Linked DNA regions of Homo sapiens. The protein of the gene in region 1 interacts with the protein of each later gene in a pairwise test. Each region holds a gene or a part of one and is shown on either strand. Other genes may lie near its edges. The genes, in order: VDR, MEOX2, HMGN3 and RPS6KC1.

Region 1 (7,975 bases):
CCCAAGGTCACAATAACTTCCTCTTCGGCCTTTTCTCCCTCTTCTCACCTCTAACCAGCGGAAGAGGTCAAGGGTCACTGCACATTGCCTCCAAAATCAATCAGGTAAACTATATAGGCAGAACCATCTCTCAGGCTCCAAAGTTTTGTACCCTGCCCGCAAGAAACCTCAAATAACAGGAATGTTGAGCCCAGTTCACGCAAGAGCAGAGCCTGAGTATTGGGAATGCGCAGGCCTGTCTGTGGCCCCAGGAACCCTGCTTATCTAGTTCCTCAGAATCCCCCCTACGAATCGCCTGCACACTCTGCAAGGCAGAGCTAAGGGCAGTGAGGGGCACCTCAGCGTCCACACACCACAGGGGCTCTGCAAACCAGCAAAGTAGGTATTTCCTTATCTGTGTCTCCTTTTGCTACGTCTCCCTTCAGGTTGCCCAGCTGGCCCTCAGCAGGTCTTTGTCCTTCATACTCCCCGCTCCCCAGGTCCCTGAGCTCCTCCCTGCCTGGCCCCATACCTGGGGAGACGATGCAGATGGCCATGAGCAGGACATGCTCCTCCTCATGCAAGTTCAGCTTCTTCAGTCCCACCTGGAACTTGATGAGGGGCTCAATCAGCTCCAGGCTGTGTCCGGCTGTGAGAGACAATGGCCAGGTACTGCGGGCAGAGCTGAGGAGCCGCCCACCCACCTCCAACCCCATGGGTCTGACCCTCGCCCTTCTCTCCCTGTTGGTGCCTAACTCCCTCCCATGTATCTGATTGGAGCCAAACCCCAGGACGGGTGGAGCCAGAATCTGGGAGCTGAAAAAGACTCCCCAGGAGGTGGAGTCTAGGCATACCTTTGGTCACGTCACTGACGCGGTACTTGTAGTCTTGGTTGCCACAGGTCCAGGACATGTCGTCCATGGTGAAGGACTCATTGGAGCGCAACATGATGACCTCAATGGCACTTGACTTCAGCAGTACGATCTGGTCCTCAGAGGTGAGGTCTCTGCAGGGGAGGGAGGGAAGGAGGTCAGGTTACCAGTAAACGCCTTCAAGCCACACAAATCAGTTTAGTGCTTTGACAGGTATACACCTGCTGGGCACCAACATGCACCCTGGGTCTTTCATCGAGGAGCTTGCAGGCTGGCTGGAAGGGACAAGAGTGTTCCTTGAGAGAGAACAGTTCAACACTGTGATCATGTGCCAAGGCCAGAAGTGAAGTAGCTCAGTTACTAAGACAAGAAAAACTCAGAGACCAAGCAGCCAGAGCTATGGGGCACAGGAAACGGAGCCCAGGGAAGTTCCCAGCATTGAGGCATGAATATGGTGGTCTGCAAAAGGTAGGGCCATGGTATCTTCAACAACACCCAAGTTTTCTCCTCCTCTCCCTCCTACTGTCCTCCAGTCCTTCTCAGTAGTAAATTCAGCCAACTCTGTCTCTAGGATGTCTCTCAAGCCCGTGATCTTATTCCCACTCCTACCAGGAGTGCCCTGGTTCAGAGCTCCAGCGTCTTTTCCAATAGCCTCTTACAGGAATCCCAGACTTGTGTCTCTCCAGTCTCTCATTCATCTTTCTTACCACTGCTGCAGGTCAATGTCCTCTTGCACTCAGAAATCTTCACTGACTCTCAAACACCCTAGGATCAGGCCCACACTCCCTAACTTGGCTCCAACCTCTCATTCCAACTCCCTTTCCCATGGTAAACTCCACCAACCTTCCATTCTAGCAGCATCATGCCACTCCACATTCAGATGCTGTGTGTTCTCACTGTGCCTTTTTTTTTTCTTGTGACAGGATCTCACTCTGTTGCTGAGGCTGGAGTGCAGTGTTATGATCATAGCATGCTACAGCCTCAAACTCCTGGGCTCAAGTGAGTCTCCCACCTCAGCCTTCCGAATAGCTAAGACTACAAGCATGCGCCACCATGCTCAGCTAATTTCTTTTATTAGTATTTTTAGAGACAGTGTCCTGTTCTGTCACACAAGCTGGAGTGCAACAGAATGATTATGGCTTACTGCAGCCTCAAACTCCTGGGCTCAAGCAGTCCTCCTGCCTCAGCCTCCTAAGTAGCTGGGACTACAGGTGCACACCATCACGCCTAGCTAATTTTTTTTGAGACGGAGTCTCACTTTGTCGCCCAGGCTGGAGTGCAGTGGCGCGATCTCGGCTCACTGCAAGCTTCGCCTCCCAGGTTCACGCCATTCTCCTGCCTCAGCCTCCCGAGTAGCTGGGACTACAGGTGCCCGCCACCATGGCCAGCTAATTTTTTTTTGTATTTTTAGTAGAGACGAGGTTTCACAGTGTTAGCCAGGATGGTCTCGATCTCCTGACCTTGTGATCTGCCTGCCTAGGCTTCCCAAAGTGCTGGGATTACAGGTGTACGCCTAGCTAATTTTTAAATTTTTTTTGTAGGGATGGTGTCTCACTATGTGGCCCAGGCTGGTCTCAAATTCCTGGCCTCAAGTGATCCTCTCATCTTGGCCTCTCAAAGAACCAGGGTTACAGGTGTGAGCCACTGCACCCAGCCATCACCACGCCTTTCAGCATACTACAGCTCCAGCCAGGAATACCCTTCTAATTCTCCATTTTGTTTTTCTGGTCCTGAATCCACTGTGTTTTCCACTGGAGCCCCGCACCTTCTGACTCTTTAGCACAGTTAGGGCCATGTCATTGTGATGCCTTGAACATTGCTGGTGCTCTTATTTTGCCCGTCTCCTCCAGTTCTGCTCTTTACATGCTTGTTTTCTACTCCTTTTTTTTTTTTTTTTTTTTTTTTTTTTTGAGACAGAGTCTTGCTCTGTTGCCCAGGCTGGAGTGCAGTGGTGAGATCTTGGCTCACTGCAACCTCCACCTCCCAGGTTCAAGCAATTCTCCTACCTCAGCCTCCTGAGTAGCTGGGATTAGAGGCACCTGCCACCACACTCAGCTAATTTTTGTATTTTTAGTAGAGACGGGGTTTCGCCATGTTGGCCAGGCTGGTCTCGAACTCCTGACCTCAGATAATCTGCCTGCCTCAGCCTCCCAAGGAGCTGGGATTACGGCGTGAGCCACTGCACCCGGCCACTTGTTTTCTACTCTTGTTTGTAAGTTACTTGGGGGCCAGCACCTCCTCTTAATCACCTTACTGTTGCCCACACACTGACCATTGAGCCGTCAGCACAAGATGATCAATAGAGATGCGTTGATGATTTGAGAGGCCAATGACTAGTTCCACTATTCTGAGTCAGGAATGGGCTTGTCTGAACAATGGCGAGGAAAAGGCAGGGCTCACAAATCAGCTTGCTTCTGGCTTTTACTCCCTTTCTCTTCCTGACTGTCTACTTCCTCCTGGATATCCTGCAGATAGGCTGTCACCCCGTCAATGGCTGCATGTTTATATATAAAGATGGGAAGCTGATATTAACTGATGAGAGTGTTGTATCAATGGGTGATAGATGGTGGGAAATGAGAAGGCTTGCATGATCAGGATGGCCAGCAAAGGATCTGTATTGAAAAAAAATCACAACGTGCTAGAGTTGGAGGGCCCCTCTTAGGAACTCTTAGAGATGGCTCCTACATAACCTCTGCAGGACTCTCCTAGGGTCAGGGAGCTCAGGGCCTCTGGACACAGCCATGGGGTTGTTAGCGCCGAGATTAATGACCTCTTCTATTGAGCTACAATCCACGTGATAGTACACTCATTTGTGGTTTACAGTTTTGTGCTCAATAAACCCAGAACCAGACTTCTCCACTAGCCATGGGACTTCCTTTGAACCATAACTAATGGAGTTTTTTAAAAAGGAAAACTGCCGTGTCCTCCTTCAGATAGTCTAATGACACAATGTCTAACATCTCACCATCCTTGTCACTTTTCTCTAGATGCTCAATCCACATTTAAAACACAAAAATGAACACCATCCCCATTTTTGTTTTGACTCATTATACAAGTAAAACATACTCATTATCAAATCTTTGGAAAATACATAAAAATGTAAAAACAAATTAAATTTGCTCATAACCACACTTCACATTTTGGCGTATTTTCTTCCTATCTTTTTTTCTTATTTATTTATTTTAATTTTTTTTTTGAGACAGTCTTGCTCTGTCACCCAGGCTGGAGTGCAGTGGTGCAATCTCGGCTCACTGAAACCTCTGCCTCCCGGGTTCAGGCAATTCTCCTGTCTCAGCCTGCGGAGAAGCTGGGACTACAGGCATGTGCCACCACACCTGGCTAATTTTTCTATTTTTAGTAGATATGGGGTTTCACCATGTTGGCCAGGCTGCTCTTGAATCCTGACCTCAAGTGAGTCCTGCCCACCTTGGCCTCCCAAAGTTCTGGGATTATAGGTGTGAGCCACCGTGCCTGGCACCTTCCTGTCTTTTTTCTATGCAAATATATATATACCCACAAATATACATAGAGAGAGGGAGTATACATTTAACATACTGGAGCTTATACTAATTCTTTATCCTACTTCCTATATCACTCAAAATTATTTAGCCCAGTTCTTAGAGGGTTGCATGATGTTACATCATAACAGTATACTCTAAGTTATTGAGCCAGTCTTCCATTTATCTATTTTTGAACATTTTGATTGCTTCCAATTTTTGCTATCATAGGTAATTCTGGGAGGAATAACTTTATACATAGCCTTTTGTTCAGTGCCCCACTCAAACAGATGGCCAGCAGTGAACACATCTTCCATGGATGCAGGCCAGAGAGGTTTTAGTGGGATCACTGCTTTTGTGATCCAGACATCCTGCTGCTAGGAACACAAACCCAAAACGACCCCAAATGACTGCCCACAGCCTGGAAATACAGGGCCTTTCTAAATACAGCTCACAGCCAGGACCAGGGATGGTGGCGTGGTGGGAGTAGAGGTGGAGTTACAGGGGAAGCCATAAGAGAGCTTGTTCCACGATGATAGGCACCAGCACAGCTCCGTTCCCCCTCCCTCACCTGTGTGACATTTACACCCTCCTCTGTCTTCACGCCTGCAGCCGCTTCTGGGCACCCGAGATGTGACTGGAATTGTGTTGCTGTTTCGTCTTTCCCACCCCCACAGGCAGAGCCCGGCCCCTCCCCTCCCCTCCCGCATTCCCACGGTACCTCCAGCAGGCTTGTAGCAGGGCTCTTATCTCCTTGCAGCAATTGTTTACATGTCTATCTCTTTCATCAGACACCAAATCCCTGGATGCCAGGGACTGTCTTCTCAACAACTTTTGTCCCTCACAGTTTATGTAAGAAAGCTATTTGTTGGATGGATGAAGAAATGAATGTGGAGAAAGGGCACAGCACGAAGGAAGCATGATAACCCCCAGGGCTCTTCCCTAGGTATGGAAATGGCAATGAAGGTGAAGGCATTTAGCAGAAGAGGGCAGGGCTGCAGCTTATGTGGCCTGGTCTCTTGTGTACTTTACTTGTCAGTGAAGCCTGGGGGTCCCAAGTCCTCAGATCTAAGGCTGCTCTTGGCCATTTAGATGCTGCTGCTGATGCCACCTCCTCCATGCATTTCATTTGCAGTGCCAGCAGGGAGGGAGATTTGTGGGGTGAGACTGAGAGGCTAAGGGAGGAGAGATGGGAGGAGAGAGCAGGCCAAGGCCACACTGTAGCACAGTTCACACCAAGAACAGCCCATCCAGCCCTGCCCCACGTTGGTCTCATGCCCCCACTGGAGACTCATCCTGTGCCCCCACACACCCACACAGAAGTCTCATCCTGCCTTCCCCACACCCTCCGCCCCTGCCTGCAGGCAGCAAGATCAAAGCCACCAGGGATGCAGCCACTGTTCTTCTATGTCTTGGAACAATAGAACCCCTAAGTGTGGAAAGCAGCAGAACCAGAGAGCTACTGGGCTGGCCCACCCTGGGCCCAGTTGGAGCCTAGGTTTGGGCTCCAGTCCAGGCTCAGCATCACCTCTGTCCAGTCACAGAGAGCGTCCATACCAGTGTCCCTGCAAGCTCTCTTAGCAAGGCCTGCTCCATTTTCATTGGCATACCTTCTGCTCTGGGACTTCTCAAGTCATACTGAAGACAGAGAAGCCAACCCTAGCATGTTCAGGATCAGTTTAACCCATTTTGCATCAATGGCTGGGCAGCTCCTGTACCTGCCATATGTACCTCACTTTAGCCATGAGTTGCAAGGACAGACTAGGGGACAGAGGAGAACATGATGAAAGGAAGAGGGCAGACTTCAACTTAACCTCGGGAAGAGAAACTGAGAGTAGTGCTATTTGTGTCAGGGTACATGTGGGAGGGCAATGGATAGGGGCCTTGAGCATGGGAGAAATTGGAGGCTGGGGTTCCTTAGTGAAGGGGGCAGCATTGGAGTAATCCGATTTAATGAGTAACTTTCTTTTTAGGGCAGCTTTCCCGTGTATGCAATCTCAGCCACCATTGGAATCACTGAACCTGGAATCACTGTATCTGGAAAGGGCCGTGGGGGCCCTCTGTCCTACTCCCCACTAGAGCAGGGAAGGATGAAGCCTGTGTAGACAAGGACTGCTGCCTGACATGAGGATGGAAGCCGAGTGCTTCTGTGTTTTTTCCCTAGCTGTTTACACAAAACAAGACTTTGGAATATGTGGAGTTTGCAAACAGTAACGTGAAGCGTGGAGGAGGGAGTTGGAACTTGTGCTCTACGGAATGTGTTGTCAGTTCCAAAGAAAGCCTCTGAGGGTAAACCCTGGGCTCAGAGCAATGCCGGGCTCACACAAGATCTGTCGCTTGCTCCTGCTTGCCTGCCTGCCAGAGGGGCCCTCGCTCCTATCACTACAACCAAAATGTGCAATGCAGTAGGAGTGTCTCAGCACTGTCTGCCAGTTTTCTCTTCTTCACCATTTTCACATTAATTCCAGGGGAAGAGCATCGAAAAATTTCTGTTATTTGGGTTGGTGAGAGGCATAAAATAACACAGAGCCAGTTTTCTCAGGGCAGAAACAAACTGGAAAGTTCTGGGTTTAGCTCTGTGAATGACCATCATCTCACTGGCAAGGCATTAATTTCGGCAATAACTCATGGCTTTTCTACACAGCTAAGAGGGCCATACACCAATATATGGCACCTCATAATCTGTTTCCATCCAGAGCCGGCAATGTTAACTCATTTTCCAGCTCCCCATATTCCAGCACTGAATCTGAGCATTAGTATCTAGGAAGCATTTTGCCCCTTCTGCCGTAAATACAGCTATTGCTGCTACTTGAAAGACAATAACATTGCTTGAGATTGATTTACTTCTCTTTCTCAACCATATTGTTTATGTATTTTATGGCAATATACCAAATGAACTTTGGGGAAGAATGAAGATACAAATATACATAAATATAGCCATTTCCCAACACATCTATTAAATGTGTCAATACTCTATTGTTTTAAGAATATTGGCCGGCAGTGGCTCATGCCTGTAATCCCAGCACTTTGGGAGGCCGAGACAGGCGGATCACGAGGTCAGGAGATCAAGACCATCCTGGCTAACACGGTGAAACCCTGTCTCTACTAAAAATACAAAAAAATTAGCCGGGCGTAGTGGCGGGCGCCTGTCATCCCAGCTACTCGGGAGACTGAGGCAGGAGAGTGGCGTGAACCCGGGAGGCGGAGCTTGCAGTGAGCCGAGATCATGCCACTGCACTCCAGCCTAGGCGACAGAGCGAGACTCTGCCTCAATTAAAAAAAAAAAAAAAAAGAATATTGGCCGGGCGTGGTGGTTCATGCCTGTAATCCCAGCACTTTGGGAAGCTGAGGCTGGCAGATCACCTGAGGTCAGTAGTTCAAGACCAGCCTGGCCAAGATGGTGAAACCCCAACTCTACTACTAAAAATACAAAACTAGCCAGGCGTGGTGGTGCGTGCCTGTAATTTCTGCTACTCAGGAGGCTGAGGCAGGAGAATTGCTTGAACCCAGGAGGCAGAGGTTGCAGTAAGTTGAGATCGCGTCATTGTACTCCGGCCTGGGCAACAAGAGGGAAACTCTGTCTCAAAAAAAATACAAAAAATTAGCCAGGCATGGTGGCACGCTCCT
Region 2 (8,087 bases), on another chromosome or scaffold:
GAATAAAACTTGCTACAAATTGATGAAGTATGAAAAATAAAAACACACAAGAAAAACTTATCATAGTGCCAAAGTTACATTGGTTATGTTGAACTCTTCAAGTTGGAAAACTTAAAACAGAAGACTAAGGTTTTACTTATAATTCCTGTCTGTATTTTCGATTCAATTTTTCTTCTCTGAGGTTTGTGAACTTTTCTAAATTCAATTCATATAAAAGGATAGCCTTGCTTTTTAAGACATGGGAGAAATAAACGGTGTAGTTCCCTTAAATTGTGGATAGAAATGTAATGGTTATGAGTTGGATGCTATAGAAAATATAACATAATATAGAGCATTTCATTATAGAATTCTCTTGAATTAGTTTGCCTGTACCTCTCCCTGTTATGGAAAGGATATAATTTTCAATGACAAAATTTTGAAAAGGCCTACATTTATCAATAAAAATAACATACAACGTGAATGCAAATGAAAATGTAGAAATTAATTATTGTCTATTAGCATTATTATGAGTTAACTATCAAATAATTATGGATTTAAAACAGGTGAACAAAAGGAAGTCCAGATGGAAGTGTTTGAAATTTGAGAGGCAATCTATGTCTTCCCAATCATAAGACGCCTCACAAAATAAAAAAAGAAAAAGAAAGACAAGAGATCATTAGAATTTTATTAAGTGTGAATACATATTATGAAAGAATGCATATATTTTGAATTTTTAATTCAATCTTTTAGATTTAATTTTATTAGTCATAATCTATATTGCATGCTGGCTTTCTAAAGATCATCCGTTAAATAGTTCTAATTTTGATATATTTTGTTTCCTCTCTTATTGCTTTAGGCAGAGTTATATTTAGCGTTGAGAACAATTTCATTGATTATACTATACCGGAATTGAATGGAAGAAAAACACTAATTCCTGAAAGAAATAAATTTAAATGCAGGAAGACCTAGAAACTAGAAAAACAAAGTACGTTGGATTGTTTTACAGTTTAGAAGTAAGGTTTTAAGTATTCATTTCTTTTGGTACATGTAAAATGAATGTAACAATTTTTACTGTGAATGTACCAATTAATGTTATATAAAAATAATAACATTTTAAAAATGTGTAAAAGTATACAGAATCACTAAATAACATGCATTAGCCATAGCAAAATTGTTCCATAAACTTTATAATGCATAGTTCCTGGGGAGAATCAGTTCCTTAGTTTTATAAAATAATGTACATCATAAATCACATAAATTACCATTGGGTATTTAGCATATTTGGATACATTTTCAAAATTCTTTATTTCAGAAGAACCAACTGAAGGACATAACTGCTACTTTTTGGCAAAATATAGCAGAAATAATATTTCTATACCCAATAAAGTTTTCAGAAACAAATTACAACATTAATTTAATTATCCACCCTTTAGTTCATATATTATGAGTATATGTTACCAAGGAAAATTTATCTATTAGGTAAAATTCAAAGTAGAGTTTCCTATTTAATTTTAAATATTTGAAGTTCCATGACAACTCATGTCACACGTGTGCAGAAGAATGGCAACTTTTAAAAGAATCGTTGTGAATCTTAAAGTAAAATTTAAATACAATTTTGTTGTATTGCTTAATATGAGCTCTAGTCCCCTTAAAATAAAATAGTCCTAATAAAAAGAAATCTCTGCCTTTACTCTTGAATGTCATTTTATTTAAGCCGAGGAAACAATAGATATACACACTTATCAAGTTTAAAGAACCTAGCCTACGTTTAAAATAATTATAGCTGTGGACCCTGCAAGAGCTAAGTAGCTTACCTTTTCACAGAATCAACCTCTTTATAATGTGTTACTTGATATTGAAACCTTACATGAAATGTTGGCATTAATATAACTTATCTTCAGGAAAACTCAAGTATATTATAAATGTAGGATAAATACTATATCATACATAGTTGTAAATGATTGTTATATAGAAATTTTATAATAAATTTTATAATTTTTACCATTCTTCTTGATATCATTAGGTAAAAAGGCATCTTTTCAATATTGGATTTTATGGATGTGAACACTGAAGTAGCTATTATAGGAAATGCTAGGGATTTTTTTCCCGTTGTTACTACATTTTAAAAATTTCTCTATAACCTAGAACATAAAATTCAATATTCTATCTTATTCCAAATATTCTAATAAAATTTAAAAATCTTTATGTAATGATTAATACATATTTAGAAATCCAGAGAAAATTAAAGTTATATTTAATTCTGGAATTCACCAAGACGTCCTTTTTAGTCCTTCATTTTTTCCTTCCAAATATTTTCCTTATATTCTGTTTTCTATAAGAAAACTGGACATCATAATTTTTGCTGATATTAAATGTTCTGTGTCTTCAATTAAAAAGACCTTTCTTGCTAGCTTTGTTTTCATTGCATGCCTTTGGAATGACTTCCTCCTTTTCTAACCTTTCTTAAATTTTTCTTCCCAGGTTTCTGGCCCCACAGTTCTAGAGGCTGACTGACTGGGGCAGGTTGTAGAGAAACTTCTGGACAGGTTGTTAACATCTGACACAGTGAGTGAGAAAAAATCCAGCACAGTCACTGGGCAGGTTTAAGAAGAAGTGGCAGCCTCGGGAGATGAAAGGTTTGTGTGTGCTTGTTGCTGGTTACCTGCAACACACTGGTTAAATTCAAATCCATTCATTTAGTAATTGCTTAGCTTCCTCTAAACCAATGTAATGCAAACCAAAAGGACCGTTGTGGATGTTTTGTACTGATGTCTGCAGATCATGAGTAATTTTAGTCTGTCTTGTCTGACATTTTCCACAATGCTTTTAGTTGACAGCATTATATTATGTAAATATTTCTGGTTAGGTTTATTGAGGTGGTTGCCTAAATCTCACTTTAAATAAAGCCTTTAATGCTTTCACCCAGAATCCATAGAGAAGCTACATGAGTTGGGGAAGTTTAGTGTTGCTCTTTGTACTTTAACTTTTAATATCAGAGCACATATTGAAACCATAAACACAATGAAAATACAAAAAAATATTCCGACGATATTGGAGGACTATAACTCCCCCACCTCTTTTTATTCTTAAAGAGCCAAGGGCGTGGGGAGTGGCAGGAAGAGATATTCTCAAGATCTAAGTCCTGGACGCCATCCTGCGAGTGCTTAAAGCCCCTAGAAACGTGCAACCTGAACAACACCCCTTTTCGAAGTCTAAAACAATATTAGATTCCCAAAATATCGGCAAAGAAAGTCTTACCGTCAGACTTGCAGCAGGTTTCAGCTCAGACCCAGACTGAAAAGCTGAGCAGCTGGTGAACAAAAGATTTAGTTTTTTTTTTTTTTTAAACGAAGTCTGCAAAACTAATTTCCCTCAAAATAGAGCTCAATTTCCGTTAAAGAAAGCAGCGCTTACAAATCTCAGAATTCCTGATCAACCCCCACTCCACCCCACCTCTGAGCAATAGAAAACAATTCGATCTTTCACACGGATGTTATTGCGAAGCCACTATTCTGCAGTGTGACTTAAAAGAAAAGAAGATAGTGAGGCTTAAGCAAGGGGACTGGAAGAGGAGGGGAAAGGTTCTGCTTTGGGGACACCTCTCAAAGATTAATCAATGCTTTTTCCTAATTCAAACCAGATGTCTAGCCCAGTTTGCTGTACCCATTAATCCCACTAACAACTTCAAAGACCTGGTCATCATCCTCTGGACACCTGAGACAATGAAAAAACGGGGCGACACTGCTGGTGGCGCATTTGGGGCCCCGGGCAGAATAGGTGACTACAGATATTCTCCTGATGCGACAGGTCGCAGATGGGACATGACTGTTCCTCCTGCTCATTACAGCGCCACTCACTTGTGTGTAAACGACTCTGCCCCCAGCGGACCCTGTCGCCCGCCAAGCAAGTAGCAGCTTCAAAGCCCTGCCCTCGCTCTCGCATGCTTACTAGAGGCGAGTTTTCTATTTTATTTTCAGGGGTGCAAAATTGTAACCAAGTGCCCACGGTGAGTGAATTTTGGGAGCTATCGAAATGTAAGAATTCTCAGTAAATGGAACCCTGGTGGTAAGGAATGCATTAGCGGATTTATTTTTGAGCAGAAGAGAGTGGATTTCTGGAGGAAACCGAGGAGATCTGGGCTAGCTCCTGAGGGGAAAGGCTAGAAATGCGCGTGCAATCTACACATCTCATATGACCGGGACACAATCGCTTGGAAATATTCTTGACCCAGGAAAAGTTCTTCTTGGTGGACAAGTGGCTAGGAAATTGAGCGGGACCGGGAAAGAGGGGGAAGGGAGCCTCCACCTGGCATCGCACGTGAGGATGCCAGGGAGCAGGCATCTGCAACCCTTTCAGACTCACGCCTTCCTCCCACCCACCCAACCAGGTCCGTCTTCTTTCTGCACTGAGAACCGCCTTTTCCAGGCCATGGTGCTCATCCCCGCAACCTCAGATCTGGCGTCCCAGCCTATTAACAACCCACCGACAGAAACCAGCTGCGAAAACCTAGGCGCGCTGCGGCGCCCGGGGCACGGGAAGATGCAAAGTTTGAAAAACTTCGAGGGTGCGCCAAACTAGCTCTGGTCTTTTCCTTTAACCCTATTACTTCTTTCGTGTTCCTGAAAGGATAGGCGTATCCCTAGCTTTTCTGCAGGTGACAGTTCCCAAATGACACTGACAAGTCACGTTTCCCCGAGAGGAAAGTGAGTAGGTAGGAATCAGGGTGCTAGGTTGGGGGTGGTGTGCGCCGCGCCCAGGCCTCCAGAGTCTGGAGGGCAGAGCTGCTGCCCTCCCGGGCGGGACTTAGACGTTGGCGTGCCGCTTGTAGTCCTGGCAGCCGGCAGTGCTGGGCGGGCGTGGACGCTCTACGTCCGTCCAGCAGGAGATAGGAAGTGGAACTGGGAGCGCGTGGCGCAGGCTGAGCGGGAGTTTTGGAGGGAGTTTGCATGTGGTCAACTCTGGGCTCCTAAGCCAGCCCCCAGCTCACGTTACACTCTATTTATAACTTCTCAGAGCCATTTCCCCCTGAAAGCAGTTCTCTGGGACCACCTTCTTTTGGCTTCAACCTCTCCCACTCTTGACATCTGAGTAGCTCAGGGAAGCTCTTCCAGGTCCGACTGTTCATATGTAAAGGAGACTGGCCGCTGGGGCTCAGGACCGGGATTATCCGAGCTCTGCAGAAGTGCACCGCTATTGCTTTGGGAGGTTAAAAAAAAAATCACACGGTTTCCAGTGAAAAAGTGACAGAGGGTGGTGGCCTTTGGAACCGCCGTGAAGTCTTCTGCCTGGAACCCGAAACTTGCATGCTATGGAACACCCGCTCTTTGGCTGCCTGCGCAGCCCTCACGCCACGGCGCAAGGCTTGCACCCGTTCTCCCAATCCTCTCTCGCCCTCCATGGAAGATCTGACCATATGTCTTACCCCGAGCTCTCTACTTCTTCCTCATCTTGCATAATCGCGGGATACCCCAACGAAGAGGGCATGTTTGCCAGCCAGCATCACAGGGGGCACCACCACCACCACCACCACCACCACCATCACCACCATCAGCAGCAGCAGCACCAGGCTCTGCAAACCAACTGGCACCTCCCGCAGATGTCTTCCCCACCGAGTGCGGCTCGGCACAGCCTCTGCCTCCAGCCCGACTCTGGAGGGCCCCCAGAGTTGGGGAGCAGCCCGCCCGTCCTGTGCTCCAACTCTTCCAGCTTGGGCTCCAGCACCCCGACTGGGGCCGCGTGCGCGCCGGGGGACTACGGCCGCCAGGCACTGTCACCTGCGGAGGCGGAGAAGCGAAGCGGCGGCAAGAGGAAAAGCGACAGCTCAGGTAAGGGCGCGCCAGGCACCCTCGAGAGTGCGCGCCGGGCTGGAAAAGGGGCGGAGAGATACTAGGGGAGATTCTCGCACTGGAGGGTGGCAGCAGGGAAGATGGGAATGTGTTGCCCTCTGTGGCTTCCTGCGGCCAAATTCGGCGGTGAAGCTTTGGTCCTGATATTTGGGGACACGTGTTTATTCGAGAGCAATGCGTATACAGCCAGCAGCTCTAAGCCCTCCAAAGTCCTAAACTAGTTTACCAGAAGGTTGATAAAAAAGGACAAGTGGCTGTGAAATCGATTGTGAAGCGTGACCTTCCATCCCAGCGCTGGGGAGGGAGGGGCGTGCGCCCAGGGATGCAGCGTCCGTTGGGCAGGCGTGCGTGCGGGTGCCGCTTCTTGACTTTTCTCTTGCAAGTTGCCGACTCTGAGTGGCTCGATTTTTCCCATCGTTAACTGGATTTCCAAATTATTGCACAATGTTTGGAACTTGCAATGGAACTTGGCAGAGCGCATGAGAAAAAAAAGTTTCAGTTTTTTTTTTTTAACATTCTTATTTCAGCGTTCTTTAAATAGCACCCTATTTCAAATGGTAAAATTTTCCCTTTATTGGGGAAGAAGACATTATCTAGGAATTCAGATTTTAAGGAATGTGTCAGAGAATTGTAAATAAATAGATGCTCACACTGGAAGAAAGACGAACCTTAATAGTACATGTCCATGTGGTGTAAGCTAATTACAGAACCTAAGTTTCAAAAGTGGAAAATAAATCCCTCTACCAAGTGGGTATTAGTAGAGACAAATACTGCGAAGCAACAGCAACTCGGGTACTGTTAGTTAGATACGTGTCTAAAGGGGTATGCAAGGGTGCGCGCAGGAGGCGCTGATTTCAGTGGGGATAATTTGAGCAGCCATGCAAAAGGGGAACCTTCCTGACCTCTGGTGCTTGAAGGCACAACGTGCCGAATAAATTGTAGCAATCCAGAGAAACTCAAAGTTTCCAGACAAGTTTTCAAAGCTCTTACCTACCTGTATTTTTATAAAATTGTTAAAAGATACTTTAAAATTAAGAGACTTGTGAGTTTTCTTTCGTGGGTATAGTGCAACCTGGATTAAATACTTTTGGAAGGTGTCATTTGTTTAATATAATATTTGCATATTTTTCTTCCTCTGTGGAATTGGGTTAATAATAGTCCTAGAAGGTAATCCCATATGTTGGTTTGAAGGATTGGAAAAATGTTGATCGTGTGTAAAGCTTTAGGTAAGATGCCACATAAATGAAAATGATTGGCCGCATATTTAATATTCCTTCACCATTCACAGCAATATCAATTGTTCTTCAGCGTTACTATAGGATGGATTCTTCTCTCACGGTCTCAAAAGCTAACTTTTATTTTCCAAGGTCAGGGGGTGAACTTTTAATGTTCCATCACAAATTAGTTTTTATAAGAAAATTACCAGTAGTGTCACTGATATTTAATGTATTTTCCTAACTATAAGTGAAACTCTCTTTAGATAGTGAGTTGAAAGGTTAATCATAGCAAAAAGGTTTCAATTTTTATTAGAAAAACAGTCGATTTTAGAATGCAGTGACAATTTCATAAACTGAACATTTGATATCAGTGTAACTTTGGAAGCAGATCCCAGTTCGGGTTGATGAGCGTACTCTTGCAATTCCCATAAGCTCTTACGGTTCATTTTATTTCTTGCAATGAGAAACCTACATGATAGATTGTTCTTCATGCTTCCTGAACTGAGCCATTGCCCTTAAGTTTCTCAGGGCAAACAATTTTCATACAAGCACATGTTATTTTGTTTGGGGAAAACTGAGAAAACGGAATTCAATAACTGATTCCCTTAATTTATTTTAATAATTTTTTTAAAAAATGGAATAATTTAACAAAACTAATTTATCTCTCCCCCCCAACTTAGTGGGAAATAACCATTTAACAAAATTAAATTCATTTCTACATTTTGAAGCTGATAATGAGGGTACTGGAAAAACAAGCAAATATAAGTGTTTGTGTCAGCTACATAAATTATTAACAGATTAAAACTTCAGTGGAAAGTACAATTAGTCATCACCAAGGATAAAAATACTGGGGATTTAGAATGAGCTTTTCTTTCCTTTGATATGTTGAAGAAATATTGACTAAAAGGAAAATCACAATAGTTTCTGTTTAAATCTATGTACACTTATTGAAAATAAAATTTTATTTGCCAATTTCAGCTGAAGGTATATTTGTCAGATATTGAGATAGATTTAAATTAAAGATATCTTTCTCGTGTAACAATTG
Region 3 (7,975 bases), on another chromosome or scaffold:
TCTTTTTTAATGGCATAGAAAGAAGAGCTGGGAAATTGTATGTAGCAAGTCATAAAATGATTTTATAATAGAAGATAGGATTTTTAGGTACTGGCTGGTTTAGACAGCTTAGGCATTTTTTTTTTTTTTTTTTTTTTGCATTAATTTCCGAGGCTTTTTATTTTGGAACTCCTGTACTGGACCTGAATTTTTAAAAGGTATTAAGTCCTTTGGATCAGAACAGCTGTTAGTCCCAGTAGAGCAGTGCTTAGATTGGAATGTCTCTGGAAATCCCAAAGAGCTCTCTGGCATCACTTAGTCTATTTGGTATGTTCAGGTCTTCACATGGAGAGGAACAACATTGTCGCAGCTGGGGAACTTTTCACATGATTTTGCCTCACTTCATGGAGATTTTATTCAAGACAACTAGATGGCAGATAGGGAGGCAGTTTTGAGTAATGGCTAACATGTTTGGACCCTTTTCAGGCCCCAAACTAAAGAGTAACTGAGTAGTGGCTCTAGGACTTCTTCCCCTCCCTACAAGTTCACAGTTGCTGTATGTTTCTGGTGCTTACCCCTTCTGTTCATCTCAACACTTATTGAGGGCCCCTGCTACATATTGGAGCCATAGAAATATAAGAGAAGGTGGTCCTGTGCAAGGAGGTATGGAGACGTGTCAGATGAGGTGAACGTGAGGCAAGACCAGCATGGTGCACATGAGTTGACATCAAGTGGAGAGAGAGTCAGATAAGGCTCTTTCACCTCTCTTTAGCATGGAGACTGTCACTTTCATCTTGGAAGGTATTGTTCTGCCTGCTGTAGTTTATGAGACATGGATAGTCCTTGAGGCCACACTGAAGCTTCAAAGCTGAGCTCTGTTGGGTAATTGGAAGGTGCTCTTTGCTCCTCTATGCTCAGAAAGTACATTAAAAAAACACAAGATACCTCTTATTGCCCGGTTTACTTGAAAATGTTGCCTTCAGTATACTTAATACGGTTAACCATGCTGGGAAAGGTATTGCAGGATTTGGATTCTGGTTCCCAGGGACTTATGGGTGCACTGTCAAGAATGCACCCTTGATAACCATAGCAGGCACTATGGTTCCTATGGAGAATCTGACACACACTCCTCCTGTACTAATTCACAGGGCTATGTGCTGAGTTGTACAAGCTTTTACTCTGTGCAGTGAGTGTATCCCACCCAATCACTTAACCTGCACAGCCTTTCATTCTCAGCACATTCTCCTAGCTGGCCTTAAGTCCAGCTCTGATCTTTCTTCGAGACTCCAGGGTTAAAAGTATTCATGGAGGCTCTGGCCCTTCGTTTCCTTCTGTAGTTTAAAGAAAGATGAGTTTAGCTTCTCTGGCTATTTTCAGCAAGAAAGTTCTTAGATGTGGAGATGGCAAGAAATATTTCTTCCAGTTTGGCCTGACTGGCTGACCTAGACTGACCTTAGCCCCACTTCAAGAATTCCATGATTCCTCATAATTATGGCATGGATTCCTACTGACCATTTTTGCTGTCCCCCTTAGGAAGAATTATTTGAAACATTTAAGCTATTGTAATGAGGCAAAGTCTGCATAAGGCAGTGAGAATTAGGGAAAGGCTTGGATTCATTTATTCAGCAAATACTGAGTTTGTACTATATGTTGGCCAGTACCCTACTGTACTGGAGATGGAGCAGTGAATAAAACAGACAAAAAGTATGGAGTATTTATTTCTAGGGCACTTTTTTTAAAAAGGCAGTTATGCTTTTAGAATGTGAAATCCCTTGGGGAGCCACCGTAGGTTGGATGGTAAGTAGAATATCAATTTTGTGTGTTATTGCTGAAATGCCTAGGACAGTTCTGTTAATTTAGATTTTCTTTTCAGGGTCATTTGCTGTTAACTTGTAATATCCTTGAAGAAAAAAAGATTTCCCCAAAATATCAATTTCTACACAGTTTCTCTGTAAATTTTCTAAACTTTGAAATTAAAAGAAAAAGTAATGCACTTTTAATTCTGGTTAAATCCTTTGAACATATACTACTAGATAAATGTGTTTGTTTTGTTATAGGTAAAAAGAAGCCTTTCTTGTTAACTGCCAAGATTTGTAGTCATTTTCATTTCTAACATAGCAGCAAGATGGGGAACTCCTGCTATTTTGGTTTCTACACAATTGCATAAGTCTCTTCTTGTATTAACTTAAAAGCTTTAGTTCCATTTTTAAGGAGCTGGAGTCAGACTGAAGACTAGCTCTTAAATAGCACCTCAATGTTCTTGCTGTTGATTTTGTCATAAAAGTAGAGGTTTTAATTTGGGATAAAGCCTAAGTTGATCTTCATTTCCCTTACTTATTCACCACACCCTTAGTTGGGAGAAGCCGTTTATTTGAACAGTATACCTACCCCTTTTTAGAAACACTTCCTCTTGAGTGTCATCGTGCCCAGGGGACTTGGGATATGTTTCACTGTGCTTACCTGGAGAAGGTGATGGGAATCATACATTATAGTCATTCAACAAAGTAAGGTATATTAAGAATAGATTTTTAAAAATCAACTTCGTTTTATATAATCACCAAAAAATATGTATATTTTCCCATTCCCTTTGTAGCCCACAAGACGGTCTGCCAGATTGTCAGCGGTAAGTACCTTAGAACCACTTCAGTGTTAGTTCTTATGAGTACATGTTCCCTTTGTCCAAAGTGAAGCAGCAAAAGGAAGATTAACATGGTTTCCCATGAGCTTATTTTCTTTTTGAAAATTACCTAGGGTCCTCATGTCTAGCAAATTTGACCAGTGTTGCCAAGCAATTCACTTGATCAAATGTGTCAGAAAAACAGTGGCCAGCCCCATAACGAAGAATATAAAGCAGGATGTTGTTTGACATTGCTAGATCTCTGAAACAAAAGTAGTATATTAGGCAAAGTTCCAGTCTTCAGATTGTACCTATGATGTGCTGAAGTGGACAGAATTCTGATTCTCTGTCCACAACTCATACTTTAGAATGTATGTATGAGAATGTTCTGAAAGTTGTCTGAGTCCATATACTGTAGCCTCATTTCAGACCTAAAGAATCTTTGTAATAGTAATAATTCTACTTTGCTATTTGGTGTCTCCTTCTGTGGGCCAGGAGATTCTTGTGGGGTTAGGATACAAGCTGAGATGGGCAGATGTGGCTGAGCCTCTGAGGTGGACATCCTTCAGCTCTTCCTCACCAACCTGTGCTCCTTACTGGTTCTTATGCTCTTCTCTTTTGCTGCTCTCCTGAGAGATTAGCTGGACTCTAGTGGAGGATTTTGGTTAAAATTCCTGCAGCCCAGACTTCCCACTGAGAAGGTAGAGGGAAAGGCATTGGCATTTTGGCTGACACTATATTAGTATATCCCCATACTAGCTATTACAGAAGCTTCATGCTACTTTGGTCTTCAGGAAAGCATGGATTTCATTCTCAACCCAAATCTGTGCCTGATACAATATAAGGAATCAAAGCAAAAATGGGTATTAGGACCACTCACAAGTTCAGAAATACAGCTGTTTGGATCAGGCAAGCCAGTGTTTCACGTGAGTCTCGTAAGGAAGTATATTAGTCTGTTTTCACACTCACTGCTGATAAAGACATACTCAAGACTGGGCATTTTACAAAAGAAGGAGGTTTAATTGGACTTATAGTTCCATGTGGCTGGGGAAGCCTCACAATCATGGTGGAAGACGAGGAGCAAGTCACATCTTATGTGGATGGCAGCAGGCAGAGAGAGAGCTTCTGCAGGGAAACTCCCATTTTTAAAACCATCAGATCTCACCAGACTCATTCACTTTCACAAGAACAGCACAGGAAAGACCCGCCCCATAATTCAATCACATCCCACCAGGTTCCTCCCATGACACATGGGAACTGTGGGAGTTATAATTCAAGATGACATTTGGGTGGGGACATAGCCAAACCATATCATTCTGCCCCCAGCCCCGCCCAAATCTCATGTCCTCACATTTCAAAACCAATCATGCCTTCCCAACAGTCCCCCAAATCTTAATTCATTTCAGCATTAACTCAAAAGTCCAAAGTCTCATCTGAGATAAGGCAATTCCCTTCCACTTGTGAGCCTGTAAAATCAAAAGCAAGTTAGTTACTTCTTGGGTAAAATGGGGATACAGATATTGGGTAAATACATCCATTCCAAATGGGAGAAATTGGCCAAAACATAGGGGCTACAGGCCTCATGCAAGTCCGAAATCCAGCAGAGCAGTCAAATCTTAAAGCTCCAAAATGATCTTTGACTCCTTTTCTTGCATCCAGGTCACGCTGATGCAGGACGTGGGTTTCCATGGTCTTGGGTAACTCCGCCCCTGTGGCTTTTCAGGATACAGCTTCCCTCCTGGCTGCTTTCACAGGCTGGCATTGAATGGCTGCAGCTTTTCCAGGCACACGGTGCAAACTGACAGTGAATCTACCATTCTGGGGTCTGGAGGGCAGTGGCCCTCTTCTCACAGCTCCACTAGGCAGTTCCCCAGTAGGGACTCTGTGTGAGGGCTTCAACCCCACATTGCCCTTCTGCACTGCCCTAGCAGAGGTTATCCATGAGGACCCTGCCTCTGCAACAACGTCTGCCTGGGCATCCAGTTGTTTCCATACGTCTTCTGAAATCTACGCAGAGGTTCCCAAACCTCATTTCTTCACTTCTGCACACTCGCAGGCTCAACACCACATGGAAGCTGCCAAAGCTTGGGGCTTCCACACACTGAAGCAATAGCCCCTGTACCTTAGCCCCTTTTAGTCACAGCTGGAGCGGCTGGGAGACAGGGCACCAAGTCCCTAGACTGCACAGAGCAGAGGGACCCTGGGTCAGGCCCACGAAGCCATTTTTTCCTCCTAAACTCTGGGCCTGTAATGGGAGAGGCTGCTGCAAAGGTCTGTCACGTGCCCTGGAGACATTTTTCCCATTGTCTTGTGCATAACATTTGGCTCCTCATTACTCATGCAAATTTCTGCAGCCGGATTGAATTTCTCCTCAGCTCAGAAAATGGGATTTTCTTTTCTTTCGCATTGCCAGGCTGCAAATTTTCTAAACTTTTCTGCTCTGTTTCCCTTTTAAAACTGATTGCCTTTAACAGCACCCAAGTCACCTCTTGAATGCTTTTCTGCTTTGAAATTTTTTCCACCAGATACCCTAAATCATCTCTCTCAAATTCAAAGTTCCACAAATCTCTAGACCAGGGGCAAAATGTTGCCAGTCTCTTTGCTAAAACGTAACAAGAGTCACCTTTGCTCCAGTTCTTAACAAGTTCCTCATCTCTATCTGAGACCACCTCTGCCTGGATTTCATTGTCAATATCATTATAAGCATTTTAGTTAAAGCCATTCAACAAATCTTTAGGAAAGGTCACAGTCATTCAGCAAGTCTCTAGGAAGTTCCAAACTTTCCCACATTTTCTTGTCTTCTTCTGAGCGCTCCAAACTGTTCCAACCTCTGTCTGTTACCCAGTTCTAAAGTCACTTCCACATTTTCATTATCTTTCAGCAGTGCCCCACTCTTCTGGTACCAATTTACTGTATTAGTCCATTTTCACGCTGCTGATAAAGACATACCCAAGACTGGACAATTTACAAAAGAAAAAGGTTTAATTGGACTTACAGTTCCATGTGGCTGGGGAAGGCTCACAATCATGGAGAAAGACAAAAGGAGCAAATTATGTCTTACGTGGATGGTGGCAGGCAAAGAGAGAGAGCGCTTGTGCGGGGAAACTCCTGTTATTAAAACCATCAGATCTCATGAGACTCATTCACTAATCATGAGAACAGTGCAGGAAAGACCCACCCCCATAATTCAATCACCTCCCACTGGGTTCCTCACATGACACATGGGAGTTGTAGGAGTTACAATTCAAGATGAGATTTGAGTGGGGACACAGCTAAACCATATTAGGAAGAGGTGTCAGTCACTAGGAGGACTTAAGAGCTGGGGTTGCTGTTGTGAATCTCCAGGCAGTTAAGGGAACAGACCTTGTAAGTCAAATGAAAACCAAAGTTTAAAACAAAGCTTTTCCTGAGCACCAGAAACCAGCAATATAAGCACCTTCCACTGAGATCATTCCCTGTGCTACCGAAACAGAGCCTCCTCAGAGGCCAGCAGGATTACAGACTACAAAACCTCATTTCCTGGTCCTATCAAAACACTTGAATGCTGGGTCAGAGGGAAAGGTCTGTCCTACAGAAAATAATATAAAAGGAAATTGTTTACTGTAAATGGAGAAAACATGTATATTAATACAGTATATCAAAGCTTAGGATGACAAAATGTTTTAAATTCTGAAAATGTAAGAGCCATGAAAGCTGCTGTATTTGGCCTGCAGATTTAGGGTGATAAGAAGATTAATAAAAACATTTCTTAACTTTTCAAGCTCGATTTTCTTTTTTTATTTGAAAGGTCATTTCTAACAGCCAATCTTCTGAAATCAAACTGTCTACAATTTCACTTTATGCCCTTGATGAAAAGGGGCAGATTCAGTGTGAACGTGAATTACCTAGAGGCACTAGGGAGGAACATGTATTTTTCTCCATAGGGGGAGACCCTGGCCAGTGTTTTCTATTTTAAAACCATTCTTCTAGTGCCAGGAGAGATGTACACTTTTTTCTAGTTCTATGAGAGAAATATTTGCCCTAAAATATCCACAGAAAACTCCTGGTGTAAAATGGTTATCTTTCCCCAGTTATCCGCATGTGCCACCTGGTCTCAGGCCCCTGGGAAGCTGGCCAGGGCTGAAGCATTGTGTGGCAGAGGGTCCATGGTCACACGGTGTGCAGGTGCTGCTCATGGGAACTGGAGGAGGACCACATGAGGCAAGAGAAAAATAGTTTCCTAGGGGACTGTTTGGCTAATAATATCTGTGAAAAATTTAAACTTTGGGAGCTAACAGTAGACATTTTATCATTATAATGATGTTCTCAATAAAAACCTTTAGACACAAATGAGCCCAGCATATCTGGTTAGACAAGAGATTCTCACCTTGAGCTGGCATTGGGGAGAATAAAAGTAGGAAGAAGCTTGGCAACAGAACTCGAAATCTACATTAGAAGTGGAAGGATTTGGAAGTGATTTTGAAATACTTCACAGGCAGCAGTCTTCATTACCAGTTGGGCTTTGCTAGTGATTGTGCTGTGATTTCTAGACTGTTAGGAAGGCCAGTGCAACTGAATTCATTGAGTCCTTTGGCCATGGGCCTGAGTCATTCCTCTTGCTGCTGTGCTGTGATAAAAGGAAGAGCAGACACATTGGAGATAGAAGCTTAGACCTGTTCCCGGAGAGCTATTCTGGACCAGGGAATAAGGAGTCGGCTTTTCAATCTCACCTGCAGTTCCCTTGTGAACCCAGGGTGAAAATAGTTATGAAATGCAGAGATCTTTATGCTGTTACCTGGTGCTGAAAATAGGATGAAATACTTTTTAATGACCAAAGCCATGTCAAAATGGATAGTTGTCTTTGTTAGTCCTTTTGTGTTTCTTTTGGTGCTGATAGTTTTTTTTTTTTTTCAGTATTTGTGTAATTTAAATTATCTTTGCAGAAACCTGCTCCACCAAAACCTGAACCCAAACCAAGAAAAACATCTGCTAAGGTAAGAAGTGCTGTTTCCCACTTTTGGCTTTTTAAACAATGAATAAATTATAATTCCCTACCTCAGAATCATTCAAAGAAAGGCCGTATTTAATGATCCAAACTGAAACCATTACCACTGTTACGGGCTTGCTTAAAGGCATAAAGCACAGTTTTCTGCGTTAATAGGAGTGTGTTTTCCATTTGGTCAGTGAGGCACGGGAAGTCAGAGATGTTGCTCTGAGAAGCCTCATGTCCGAAGGGGGTTTGGCAGCAGCCTCGTGAACATGCGGTTCATGCGGCACACAGCGGGGATGAGTTTGGGCCCTGGCAGCACTGCCCCACTATGGGAGGAATTTGGGAAGGGGCTTCTGACTTCATCTAACTGGATTTCGCAGGCCAGTCTGAGGTCTAATAATAATAATATA
Region 4 (7,975 bases), on another chromosome or scaffold:
GTAGTCTCGCTCTCTTGCCCAGGCTGGAGTGCAGTGGCGCTATCTCAGCTTACAGTAACCTCGCCTCCTGGGTTCAAGTGATTCTCCTGTCTCAGCCACTCAAGTAGCTGGGATTACAGGCGCCCTCCACCATACCCGGCTAATTTGTCTATTTTTTGTAGAGACGAGGTTTCGCCTTGTTGTCCAGTCTGGTCTCGAACTCCTGACCTCAGGTGATCCACCCACCTCAGCCTCCCAAAGTGCTGGGATTACAGGCGTGAGCCACCGCATTGGCCAAATTCAGATCTTAAATATCTGAAGCTGTGACCTATTTACTGAGCTAAGTTTTGACAATATAAACTAGAAGATAAAGTAGCACATTGCCTTAGAACTAACCACATTTATATATATGCATGTTACATATTGCTCTGGTTATTTGAACTTGAAAATTGCACAGACTGCCTTTTTTCTTCCCGTAAATATTTATGTCTTCATTTATTGCTTATGTTACAGATTTTGTTTTTAAAATGTAAGGTCTGAGAGTCAACGTGGAGACATACTTTTAAAATAACTGTGCTTAGTATTATAAAATATTTCTTGAGAGTTAAGGAGAAAAACACCTTTTTTCAGGATAATTAACCAGGTAAATAGTGCTCTCCTGAGAGAACTTCATGAGATAAAAATTAAGAATGTCTTCTGTATATTTTCTACTACTGATTTACTTCTAGCTTCAAGGAACAATTTTCTATATTTTTGATCCTTGCAGGGTTATTTCTGTAGGAGTAGAGTTTTAATCATTGGAAGTACCAATGTTAAATTTTGGATAGCAAAAGAGCTTTTTCATCTTCTTAAATCTCCTTTGTGCTTTTTTGCAGTTCTCTGAAATCTGGCAAGGTTAGATGATTTTGAGGCCAGTTGCAAGCATACTAACAGATTCTGCAGTTAAACTCAGTGTTATTTCTTAATTTTTATGTAGAATAAGTACCTCTATTCAGAATTGGAAAATTCTTTCATAAGTTCCCTTTGATTCTTTAGTTGAAGGAGACACAAGTGTAAGAGAACCATCAGCAGTGTTTTCAGTTATTTCATCATGCTAAGTTTACAAAATTCTCATATTGTAGTATAGATTTCTCAGCAACAGTAGGTGAATGGCAGTTCTTGCCTGTATTCTTTCCATGAGTATAAAAGGTATGTTTTTATTCTCAAAAGACAGTGCTGTATTATAACTTATTTAATTTACATTGAGTCATAATTTATATACAGTAAAATTCACCCATTGTAAGTGTCCAATTTGATGAGTTTTGACAAATGTATACAGTTGTGTAACTACCCATGTTCATCACTGCACAAGTTCCCTCATGTTCCTTTGCAGTCAGTCACTCCCCCTCATTCCCTATCTCTAGGCAACCACTGGTTTGCTTTCTGTCACTATAGATTGGGTTGTATTTTCTAGAATTTTGTATACAAGGAATCATATAGTATGCACTTTTTTTTTTTGGTCTGGCTTCTTCCACTCAGTATGATTATTTGAGATTTATCCATGTTGTCATGTGTTTCATTCCCTTTTATTGCTGACTCATATTCCATTGTATGGTTATACTGCATTTTATCTGTATATACTGCATTTTATCTGATGGATATTTGGGTTGTTTCCAGTTTTTGGACATTATGAATACAGCTATTATGAACATTCATATACAAGTCTTTGTATGGACATATGGTTTTATTTCTCATGATACCACATGGCTTTGTTTATGTAGCTTTATACTAAGTTTTGAAATCAGGTAGTCTAAGTACTCTTTCTTTCTCAAAATTGTTCTGGCTATTCTAGATTGTTTGCATTTGTGTATAAAATTTAGAATCAGCTTGTCTGGTTTCTACAAAAATGCCTGTCCAGATTTTGATTGGGATTATATTGAGAATGTAGATGAATTTCAGAAGAATTGATATCTTAATAATATTGTCTCTGATCCATGAACATAATATATCTCCTCATTTATTTAGCTCTTCAGTATGAGCAGTGCTTTGTAATTCTCAGGATACAGTCTTGCACATGTTTATTTTTATTTATTGATCTTTTTCAGAGATGGGGGTTTCACTGCATCACCCAGGCTCGAGTGCAGTGACGCAATCATAGCTTACTGCAGGTTGAACTCTTGGGTTCAAGTGTTACTCCCTCCTCAGCCTATTGCCTGGGATTGTGGGCACAAGCTACCTCATTGGCTTTGCACCTATTTAAAGTAGTTTGGGTTTATTTTGAAACCAGGAGAATGTATAAATCCTAGTTTTATTATACGTAGCTAGTGTTTGTTGAGTAATAACAGCAAACACTTACATGGTGCTTACTGAGTCAAGCAGTTTATATTAAATTAACACATTTGTCACAGGGGCCCGGTGAGTAGGTACCATTATCATTTCCACATTTTCAATGAGGAAATTGAGGCACAGAGACGTTTAGTAACTTGTCCAGGGTCATATAGCCAGCAAGTGGTAGAGTCTACATTTGAACCCAGGTAGACTGGTCCCAATCACAGTGCTTTTAATCCCAATGCTATGCTGCTGAATACCTGTATTATAAAACATTTTTCATTAGGTGCTGTGAGTGTGCATATGGGGACACCTATGTGTCCCCACAAGGGCATTACTATAGTTTGGCAAAAGTGATGGATACGTGAATAATAAGTAACTGTGATGATGTGAACAAAGGGGAGTGAGGGAATTAATGGGAAGTACTGAGCTTCACTTAAGTCTGAAAAATTACCATTTCCAAAGCTTCAAATCGAAGCACTATTTATATTGCTTGGAGGGAACCTGTCCTCATTTCCTGACCATATTCTTAAGCAGCCTGCTTGTGCCTGGGAATGGAATTATTTGTAGTTTCCAAATTAGGTTAGAACACTACATTCTTCCATATCTCTCTGTTAGATGCTATTTTCTCTGTCTGGAATACTCTTTCCTTTTGTCTTGGCAATCTCTGCTCATCTCAGGTGTCAGCTATACCCTGTGTTCCGGGAAGCTTTTTTTTTTTTTTTTAGGCGTTGCTCTCTATATGTCTTGTATCTCCTCCGTTATCATAATGTACTTGTTTGACACCTCTTCTGATGGCAGACTCTATTCTTTTTTGAGAGTCTCACTCTGTCACCCAGGCTGGAGTGTAGTGGAACGATCACGGCTCACTCTAGCCTTGACTTTGCAGGCTCAAGCAATCCTCCCACCTCAGCCTCCCTAGTAGCTGGAACTACGGGAACATGCCACCCTGCCTGACTAATTTTTGTATTTTTTTTAAGAGACGGGGTTTCACCATGTTGCCCAGGCTGATCTTGAACTCCTGAGCTCAAGTGATCCACCCATCTCAGCCTCCCAAAGTGCTGGGATTACAGGCGTGAGCCACCATGCCCGGCTGACTCTGTCTTTTTAACTGTATATTCTTGGTGCCTAGCACAGAGCTTGGACTATAGTAGGGATTTCAGGGTAGGCTGGAAGGAGGCAGCGCTTTGCTTTTCAAGTATTGATTTTTAAATTAACATACAATGAAATTGACTTATTCTTTTGTATAATTCTTTGAATCTTAACATGAGTATAAATTCATTTATCTACCACCATAATCAAGAAACAGAAGTTTCATCATCCTAAAAAAACTCCACCCTTCCCCCTACTCCTTATACCCTGGCAAGCAGCGATCTATCTATACTACTATACTTTTGTCTTTTTGAGAATGTCATATAAATAGAATCATATAGTATTTAGCCTTTTAGACTGATAATTTGCCTATTTTTTTCTTTGGGTTGTTTGTTTCTTACTCCTGAGTTTTGAGAGTTCTTTATGTTCTGGGTATCTTTTTTTTGGGGTTTGATATGACATTTGTAAATATTTTCTCCTGATCTAGAGCATATCTTTTAATTCTCTGAAGTATCTTTTTTTTTTTTTTTTTTTTTTTTCCTTTGAGACAGAGTCTCCCTCTGTTGTCCAGGCTGGAGTGCAGTGGCGTGATCATGGCTCACTGTAGCCTTGACCTCCTGAGCTCAAGCAATTCTCCCACCTCTCAGCCTCCTGAGTGGCTGGGACTACAGGAATGTGCCACTGTGCCCAGCTAATTTTTGTATTTTTTAAATAGAGACCCAGTTTCACCATGTTGTCCAGGCTGGTCTCAAACTCCTGGTCTCAAGCAATCTGCCTGTCTTGGCCTTCCAAAGTGCTGGGATTACAGACGTGCGCCTGACCTTTTTTTTTTTTTTTTTTTTTTTTTTAGAGATGGGGTCTTGCTGTGTTGCCAGGGCTGGAATGCAGTGCTTATTCGCAGGTGTGATCATAGTGTGCTACAGCCTCGACCTCCTAGGCTGAAGTGATACCCACCTCAGCCTTCCAAGTAGCTAGGACTACAGGTATGCCACTGCACCCAGACAGTGTTTTTGCAAAGCACAATTTGTAATTTTGGTGAAGTCCAGTTTATCAGTTCTTTATTTTATGAACCATGCTTTTAGTGTCATACCTAAAATCTCTGCCTAACCTCAGGTTACAAATATTTTTCCCAATGTTTTCTTCTAGATAACTTATTTCTTTGCATTTTATATTTTGCTCTATGATCCATTTTGAGGTTTTTTTTTTTGTTTTTTGTTTTTTTATAAGGTGTAAGGTTTGGGTGAAGGTTCTGTTTTTGCCTCTGGTTGTCCCATTGCAACAAAACACCATTTGTTCAAGAGACTAACCTTTCTTCGTTGAATTGCCTTTATTCCTTTGCCAAAAGTCAATTGACTATATATGTGTAAAGCTGTTTCTGGATTCTCTTATTTTGTTCCATACCATACAATCTTGATTATTATAGCTTTATACTATATCTTAAAATTAGGCAATATTGTTTCTCCAATTTTATTCTTTTTCAAAATTATTTTGACTACCCTAGTTCCTTTGCTTTTTCATATATATTTTAGAATCAGTTTATCTATAGCTACAAAAAATCCTTTTGGGATTTGATTAGGAGTGCATTAAATCTGTAGATCACTTTAGGGAAAAATGGACATCTTTTCTATGTTGAATCTTCAAATCTATGAACACAGTATGTCTTGCAGTTTATTTGTGTTCTCTGATCTCTTCTATCAGCATTTTGTGGTTTTGAGCAAATTGCTTCTCTGTATATTTTGTTAGATTTATTCCCCACTATTTCGTATTTTTGTAGCTATTGTCAATAGTATTTTTAAAAATCTTGGTTTTCAGCTTTTCTTTGCTAATATATAGAAATTTGGTTCATTTTTGTGTTGTCTTTATATCACGTGACTTTTTTTAAATTATACTTTAAGTTTTAGGGTACATGTGCACAACGTGCAGGTTAGTTACATATGTATACATGTGCCATGTTGGTGTATCATGTGACCTTTCAAACTGACTTATTAGTTCTAAGACTTTTTAGTAGAATTCTTGGTTTTTTCCTGCATAGACAATCTGTGTTGTCTGCCAAAAGGCATAGTTTTATTTATTCTTTCCAAAATGTATGTCTTTTATTTCTTTTTCTTGCTTTATTACACTGGCTATGACTTGTAGTCCACAGTCTTGAATAGGAGTGGTGAGAGTAGACTTCCTTGCCTTGTTCTTGATGTTAGGAGGAAAGCATTCAGTCTTTTATCCTCTAGTATAATTTTCACGGTAGAGTTTTTGTGTATGGGAGGCTGCATGTTTTATTTATTTATATATATATATTTTGAGACAGAGTCTCACTTGTCATCCAGGCTGGAATGCAGTGGTGCGATCTCAGCTCACTGCAGCCTCCGCCTTCCGGGTTCAAGTGATTCTCCTGCCTCAGCCTCCCGAGTAGCTGGGATTACAGGCATGTGCTACCACACCGGCTAATTTTTTTTTTTTGAGACGCATCTCGCTCTGTTGCCCAGGCTGGAGTGCAATGGCGTGATCTTGGCTCACTGCAACCTCTGCCTCCCGGGTTCAAGCAATTCTCTTGCCTCAGCCTCCTGAGTAGGTGAGACTACAGGCACCCGCCACCGTGCCCAGCTAATTTTTATGTGTTTAATAGAGATGGGGTTTCATCATGTTGACCAGGATGGTCTCCATCTATTGACCTCGTGATCTGCCTGCCTCGGCCTCCCAAAGTGCTGGGATTACAGGCGTGAGCCACTGCGCCTGGCCACACCCGGCTGATTTTTTTGTATTTTTAGTTGAGACGGGGTTTTGCCATGTTGGCCAGGCTGGTCTCTAACTCCTGGCCTCAGGTGATCCGCCCACCTCAGCCTCCCAAAGTGCTGGGATTGCCGGTGTGAACCACCGCGTCCAGCTGCATGTTTTACTTTTTAGTTTTGTTAGCTTTTAAATTTTGAAGTAATATGTAGTCATACACATTTCAAGCAATAATTTGAGTCACTTTAAAGGAAAAAAGAAAGAACCTACTAAATTTTAAATCCTTAACCTGTTAGGATTATTAACAAATGTCTGATATTAAGGCAGTGGGAGTTGTTAGATTTCAGTTGTTAAATCAGTAGCTTCTTGAAGATTTCTTGAATAAATACTTAGTTTTGGCTTAATCTGGAGATATTTTCAACAAACAAAATAATCATAGGGATAGGGAGGGCAATTAGTTTGTTGTAAAATATATTTATGCTTAAAATTTTTGAAAAATGGCTCTCAAGGTGTCTTGTGTTTTCTAGAGTCTAGTTTTATTCTACTGTTCCTTTGTTTTTAACTTGTAATATTGTTTAGTAGAAAACTTTCTAATATACCAAAAATTTCAGTAAATGGAACTTAAAAAATGTAAACCATTCCTGATTTCATCTTGTTTGTTGACAACTTGTCTCAGATATTAAGATTTTATATTAAACTGCAGACTTTCTTTAACATTAAGGATTTTGATTTTCCTTGAACCTTGATTGGAAAATAGTTTAGAATACTGCTATAATTGGTAAAATTTGAGGTGAGAAAAATAACTTTAGCAAACATATACTGAGTATCTAGAGATAACTTGCAGTTTTAGCTTCTTTACTCTCCCTGAGATTTTGGGATTTTAATAATCTAGAAAGCCACAACTCCTTACTGTCTTTGTCAGTTTGGATTTTTATAACAAGATATTATAGACTAGATGGCTTCAACAATAGACATTTCTTTCCCACAGTTCTGAAGGCTGCAGGCTGGGAAGTCCAAGACCAAGAGGCCAGCAGATTTAATACCTGATGAGGGCCCGCTTCCTGATTTGCATACAGCTGCCTTCTTGCTGTATGGTCTCATGGCTGAGAGAGATCATTGTCTTTTTCTTGTAAGCGCAGTAATCCCATCATGAAGTTCCCACCCTCATGACCTGATTACCTCTGGAAGGCCTCACATCCACATCCATCACATTGGGGATGAGAGTTTCAACATGAAATTCAATATGAATTTTAGGAGAAACACAAACATTCAGTCTGTAGTACTTTTGACATAATGCTTTCGTGAAAACTTGTTAGAAAGTTGAATGTCTAAAATTTGTCCCATTGACTTATCTATCTTATATGGGAGTTCTTTCACTCCAGAGAACTAAAAATTATAAAATGTCTAATTATGGTTTGTGCAGGTGTTGCCTCTTGGGTCCAGACTGCCTGGCTGGTGGGTGATAACCAGCCCAAATATTCTTGCCAACCAGTGCCACCTGTGGCTCTGCAGGGAAGAGCGGGAGAGAAGAACTCAGGTGCAGGTGGTCATGAAAGGGAGGTTGAGTTGGTAAGGTAACAATTGCCTATGTGAGCTGGGTGCTTTGACCTACTTTTCCTGCAAGACTTGGGTGTTTTTTTTTTTTTGTATGTATGAAGTCCAGTTTAAATATGTCAGTATGTTAACATGAAAGTATGGATTTTAAATATCTGAAAATCAGGAATGCATGCATTATATTGATGAATGTGCCACTTGGTATACCTAATCACCACAAGGAGAAATGTTCAGAATAGTGTAGCCTTCCATTTCTGCATATTATTCCTGTCCCACATTCAGAGATTCATATCTTTGAAAAATGAAAAGAGTGGACATGTTT

What was found.
Region 2: the proteins of VDR (region 1) and MEOX2 interact in binary tests that used the Homo sapiens proteins (3 or more experiments, as listed by UniProt).
Region 3: the proteins of VDR (region 1) and HMGN3 interact in a two-hybrid assay, tested with the Homo sapiens proteins (one study listed by BioGRID).
Region 4: the proteins of VDR (region 1) and RPS6KC1 interact in binary tests that used the Homo sapiens proteins (3 or more experiments, as listed by UniProt).

What each region holds. Positions count from the first base shown.
Region 1 is NC_000012.12:47,845,824-47,853,798, forward strand, and holds part of VDR (vitamin D3 receptor), read right to left. Parts: intron 986-7,975; coding exon 834-985; intron 629-833; coding exon 512-628; intron 1-511.
Region 2 is NC_000007.14:15,683,603-15,691,689, reverse strand, and holds the start of MEOX2 (homeobox protein MOX-2), read left to right. Parts: upstream 1-5,006; 5' UTR 5,007-5,287; coding exon 5,288-5,804; intron 5,805-8,087. UniProt on the Homo sapiens protein: Mesodermal transcription factor that plays a key role in somitogenesis and somitogenesis and limb muscle differentiation. Required during limb development for normal appendicular muscle formation and for the normal regulation of myogenic genes.
Region 3 is NC_000006.12:79,203,174-79,211,148, reverse strand, and holds part of HMGN3 (high mobility group nucleosome-binding domain-containing protein 3), read left to right. Parts: intron 1-2,572; coding exon 2,573-2,602; intron 2,603-7,518; coding exon 7,519-7,569; intron 7,570-7,975. UniProt on the Homo sapiens protein: Binds to nucleosomes, regulating chromatin structure and consequently, chromatin-dependent processes such as transcription, DNA replication and DNA repair.
Region 4 is NC_000001.11:213,053,860-213,061,834, forward strand, and holds part of RPS6KC1 (ribosomal protein S6 kinase delta-1), read left to right. Parts: intron 1-3,898; exon of another isoform or gene 3,899-7,509; coding exon of another isoform or gene 7,510-7,668; intron 7,669-7,975. UniProt on the Homo sapiens protein: May be involved in transmitting sphingosine-1 phosphate (SPP)-mediated signaling into the cell. Plays a role in the recruitment of PRDX3 to early endosomes.